2 separate regions of the Homo sapiens genome follow, and region 2 is linked to region 1. A link means that fine-mapping ties the variant in region 1 to the expression of a gene that starts in the linked region. Tissue or cell type: adrenal gland. Region 1 holds a variant in brackets; the other region holds the start of a gene. All regions are shown on one strand. Distances are from middle to middle.

Region 1 (2,753 bases):
GACTGGACTTCCTCCCACTCCTCCTTAAGTGACTCATTTCTGAAGGTCAGGCCACACTGTGGCTAAGTGAAAGAAACCCGTGTGAGAAGACACGTCCTGACCTCCAGAAATGACCGGGAGCACCTCCCACTGCTGATTGGGGCTGGCAGGACAGAGCAGGCTTTGAGAATCACCCCCTTAAATCATCATAGGCAGCCAGCATCGCCGGCTCAGGGTCAGTCACCAATGGGCATGGGTGTTTGGCTCTTCTCTGGGCAGGAGGATCGATGGCCCCGAGCACAGGCCAGAGCAGCAGCCCCTCCACCGCCAATGGGGCCTGGGCAGGTCTGCCTGAGCTTTTCCACCATCAGATTGTAATACCTACCTAGCTGGGCAATTTCAAGCTGGAAATAATGTAAATTTCTGGGCATGCAAGATAACACTGTCATTAAGAGACCACAGTGATTGTTAGCCAGGCATGGTGGCTCACACCTGTAATCCTAGCACTTTGGGAGGCCAAGGCAGGCAGATCACGAGGTCAGGAGATGGAGACCATCCTGGCTAACACAGTGAAACCCTGTCTCTACTAAAAAAAAAAAAAAAAAAAAAAAAAATATATATATATATATATATATATATATATATATATATATATATATATACAAAAAAAAAAAATAAGCCGGGCGTGGTGGCAGGTGCCTGTAGTCCCAGCTACTCGGGAGGCTGAGGCAGGAGAATGGCGTGAACCTGGGAGGCGGAGCTTGCAGTGAGCCGAGATCGCGCCACTGCACCCCAGCCTGGTGACAGAGCGAGACTCCGTCTCAAAAAAAAAAAAAAAGAGAGACCATCATGAAAATTCGCACTCAGACCCATTCCTGATCCCATCATATTCCAAGTCTCACCTGAAGCAAAGCAGTAGATGAAAGAATCCTGTAGTTCTTGGCACCTTTTATATAAGTGGCTTTCAACAGTCAATGCTAGAACTTAAAGAATCTTCTTCATCTTCTTTTTAACCACATAAAGGGGAAATAATTAAAACAACTACTTTTCAATTTTTTCCCAGCTGATCTACCCAACTCACAACTCTGGATTATAAAATGAACAAAAACGAGTAGGACCAGTAGAAAAACCCCAGAGAATAGCCGATGGCAGAGACTTCGGCACAACCCCACCTCCCTCACCCGCACCATGGCAGACATGTCTAATCTACACAGAGCTAGACCCAGACTCCAGACAGCCATTACCAGTCAATCCCAGTTCATGTGCAAGATTAAACCAGTTACTCATAGCCCGTTTTACCATGAATCAGACAAGGTCAGAAAGGGGGCAGTGACTCACCCAGCCTCACACAGTCACCAAGGAGGCTGGACTGTATCTCCTGAAGCTGGGCAGACAGCCAAGGCCATGGGAGGGAGGGAGGCCGGATCTCCACAA[G/C]GCTGAGGGGCAGGAACTTTCAGAAGCATGTTCTGTATGCAGTGATTCCACTACAAAGCAGAGGCGCCTGCTCTTCTCAACAAGGACAGTGGGCTGCTGGGCTCTGGTGGATTATCACAGGGCATGGCTGCCCCAGGGTCAGGTTCCGGGCTCTGCCCCCTTCCCTGCAGAGAAGGCTGGGATCTCCATGGTTTTAAGAGGGTTGATAGGAAGCTATCAACTTCACTGCCTTCTGGTCCTGAATGTTCTCAGATATATACATTTTAAAGTGTTTAAATTAAGTGGTGATTGGCAAACCCCAGTCTCCAACCCAGAGAGGACCTGGACAGTGGCCTCCTAAGGGAAGCCCTCAAGTTGGCTTGGAAAGACCCAGGCAGTCTACCTCGGGTCTACCTAGAGTCTATCTGGGGTCTATCTATCCAGGGTCTATCTATTTAGGGTCTATCTAGGGTCTATTTAGGGTCTACCTAGGGTCTATCTATCTAGGGTCTCTGCGTCCCACTTTGGGACATCCCTTCCTCCTGCCTCCTTCCCAGCAGCATCAGGGAGGGACCCCTGTGTGTCACTTGTGCGGCTCTCCACCCGACAGAGGGACAGAAGGGCTCATTCCTCTCTCCCTTCCCACGGGGAACTTCCAGCCTCCCTTCTGTTCCCTACCATGCAGTTCAGCAGACACAGGGTGAGTGGGTGCTGCCGGCCACATGGCAGCGTGGGCATCCCCCTCCCCGTCAGAGCTCCCAGTTGGGAGGGGCGGAGCACAGAGAAACAGGTGAAAATTAGAGGGTGGATTTCATCATCTCCAGAAACTTAGGAGAAACCAAGATACCTTCATAGGTGAATGGATGGGCTGGGGTCCCTCCAGACAATGGAATATTTTTCAGTGCTATAAAGAAAGGAACTGCCAGGCTGTGAAAAGGCAGGGAGGAGTCTTAGGTGCTGCTAGGTGAAGAAGCCCATTGGAGAAGGCTGGATACTGTGTGATTCCAACTCCATGACATTCAGGAAAAGGCAAAACCATGAAAACAAGAAAGATCAGCAGCTGCCGGGGCTGGGCAGAGGGTGACTGGCAGGAGCACAGAGTGCAGGGAGGGTGAGTGGCGGGAGCAAGGAGGGCAGGGAGGGTGAGTGGCAGGAGCAAGGAGGGCAGGGAGGGTGCGTGGCAGGAGCACGGAGGGCAGGGAGGGTGACTGGCAGGAGCACAGAGGGCAGGGAGGGTGAGTGGCAGGAGCACGGAGGGCAGGGAGGGTGAGTGGCAGGAGCAAGGAGGGCAGGGAGGGTGACTGGCAGGAGCACAGAGGGCAGGGAGGGTGAGTGGCAGGAGCACGGAGGGCAGGGAGGGT
Region 2 (2,753 bases), 140 kb before region 1:
CGCTGTCCAGGCATTTACCTGTTTATTTTGTTTATTTTCAGGAATGCAGGGCTGTGGGCTGTGCTGGGGGCACCTAGGACAGGCTGGGCACTGAGAGGGCCTCAAGACACCTTTGTCCACCCGACCGGCAGAAGGGAACTAGACTTGCTCTTGGCAGAATGGGCAGGGGCTGTCCACGACACTACCGCGTGCTGTGCTCACTTCCCAGCATCAGCCCACTCTGACCATCAGTTTCTGCATCTAAGACTTGGGTTAACACGGATCTCAGGACGTAAGGATTAAACGTGATAACACGTGGCACACTCCCTATGCCCAGCATGGCTCACGGCTGGGGATGAAGCAGTTAACCGCCTCCGCTGCAGGAGCGGACTTGGCAGCTGAGCTGCCCCCCCGCCCCCGCCGGGGACCTGTCCCTCTGCCCTCGGCCCAGGGTGCAGGGACAAGGACTGGGTGGCCGCGGGAGTCCCCCGAGCCCCATTGGCCTTCCCTTCCGGCCGCCGCCACGCGGGGCGCCGCGTCCCCACGGGTCTAGACGTCCAGCCAACTTCCCGGCTCTGCAAAAGCCTCTGGGGGTGCGCGGGGCTGGGCGGGGGTGCGGCGTGGTCTCCCCCAGGGTGGGCTCCAAAGCTCCCACCCCCGTCCGGGGCGCTGACACCGCCGACTCGCAAGCCTATGCCGCGCTCGGAGCGCCGCGGGGCCAGCACGCCCGGGCGGGCGGCCCGGAGGAGGCGGCGGCACGGCTGGGGCACCCCCGGCTCCGATCCGCGATGAATGGGGCGGCCCGGGCCCCGCTCCCCGCAGCCCCGCCCGGAGGTCCCGCTCCCCGAGCCCCTCGCTCCGCGGCCCTCGCCAGTACGTTGCCCGGGCGCTTCCCAAACTGCCCACGGAGCCGGACCCCGCGCTGCCAACGCTCCGCTCCGGGCAAGGCTGCGGCCCCCGCCGGGCCCCGGCGCTCGCTGCCCCGCACGTCCGGGCCCGGGAGGAGGAGGTCGGGGGAGCCGGGCCGGGCGCCGCGAGCGCTGGGAGGGTCCGGCCCCGCCGGGGAGCGGCCCCCGAGGGCGCAGGAGCGGGAGCCGGGCCGGAGACCCCCGCGCAGCCCGGTGACACCCCCGCCCCGCGTTCCAGCCCGGGGTCCCCAGGCACCGCGCGCGCCCAGGCGGCGCATCCGCACTCACCTCCGCTCCGAGGCCCGCTCCGCCCGCCACGCCGGCCGCCGCCAACGAGCTCCCGGCCCGCGCCGCCCCAGCGCTCTGCAGCGGAGGCGCCGTCCTCATCCCGACCGCAGGCCCGCCCGGGCCGCCCGCCCGCCGGGCACCGAGCCGCTCTGCCGCGCGCTGCGCCTCGGGGCGGGGTGGGAGGAGAGGGAGCAGCCGCCACCCTGCCCAGGTCGCCGCGGGCCAGCCCTGCAGCCAGCTCCAGCCCTGGGCCGGGTGCTGGGAAGGCCGGACGCCGGCCGGCGGCCGCGGGGTCTGCCCCCCGGAGGCTGGGGCGGCTTAGGTTACAGACTCCGCCGCCCCCGCACCCTCCCCCCAGCTATTTTTAGCGCCGCTTTTCCTAGGTGTTTGTTTCATGGGACCCACCCCGGCGATGGGGGGCCCTGAGGCATTGCTCCCTGAACCCCCTCTTCACACTCCCCAGCCAGCCCACCCCAGAATGGCAGGCCTTGCTGCTGAGACGGAAACGCTGCATTCAGCACAACTTAAAAAACGTCTGCCATAATGCTACCCATGTGGCTTCCAGTGGCTGCTCTATCTCCATCCCTGGCCTGCGCTCCAGCTCCCCAGGTGCCCACACATGACACGCTTGTCCCTGTGCTTCTGTCTAGGAGGTGGGGGATGTCCCGACTGGCACCTGGCACCTGCCTGGGCAAGTTCGGTTTGAGTGGCTCAAGTTGGCCCTCGAAGGCACCATAAGGAGGTCCCCATGGCACGCTTTCTCATAGGTGGGAGCTAACATTGCCCCCAGACCTTCGTGTCTCCACTCTGGGTCCCTTGTCCAGCCCTGGGACTGCCCCAGACTGGCCCGTGAGTTCGGCAGCATTGCTGGTGGGGCGCTAGGAGCCATCCAGGCCCCTAGAGAGGGAGAGGCCCTTACCGGTCATTTGTCCAACATCTCCATTCACAGCCAAGGAAACCAAGGCCTGAAGAAGACAAGGAACCTGCCCAAGGCCACACGGCGGAGATGGCTCCAGGCAGAGCCCCCTGGCCCAGTACGTGCCCGTCCCCGGCTGTCCCAGACAGGGGCGTGTGGGCCTCCTCCAAGGGCAGGGGTGCAGCGTTACGGGCAGCATCTGGGGACGGATCGCCCTCCCCCACTTCAGAGGATCCCAAGTCATGAACTTGGTGGACTTCTAAGAAATAGGGTGGCAGTGGGGGGACTTCGCAGAAAGGAATGCTTTCAGAATTAGTCCTTCAGACAAAGGTCCCCCGGGAGCAGGTCAAGCACGCTTTACTTACGCAAGTTCAAGTTGCACACCCTTTTAAGGACACCTTTATTATGTAAAGCAAGGTGTGGCCTAACCACGGGCCTTCTGGTGGAGCCAATGAGTGGGCCTGCCCCTCCCCCAATCTGGTCTGCCTCCTGAAGCTGTTTTGGGACTCTGCGAACGGTATAGAATAAACTAAAAGGAACTGCACATGGCAGTGGGGTTTCTGTGCTGGCATCGCAGCACATGGCATTCCTGCCAGTGGACGCGAAAACGTGAATTGAAAAAGGGGCAGGGGCTGAAAGGCCCCAGAGGCTCGAGGCTTGGC

The links. PIP is the estimated chance that this variant, and not a neighbour inherited with it, causes the effect.
Region 2: ZNF469 starts here. The variant in region 1 is fine-mapped to the expression of ZNF469 in adrenal gland (GTEx, PIP above 0.99).

What each region holds. Positions count from the first base shown.
Region 1 is chr16:88,237,556-88,240,308 of GRCh38, reverse strand. It overlaps a transcript of ZNF469 not described here. Among named protein-coding and RNA genes, the nearest start is that of LINC02182, 45 kb to the right of the region's middle. RefSeq lists an enhancer at 1-166. The variant G/C (reference allele first, on the strand shown) is at 1,414.
Region 2 is chr16:88,381,677-88,384,429 of GRCh38, reverse strand. ZNF469 (zinc finger protein 469) reads right to left here and starts at 1,471. Exons shown (of 3, transcript NM_001367624.2): 1 at 1,176-1,471. RefSeq lists an enhancer at 2,112-2,655.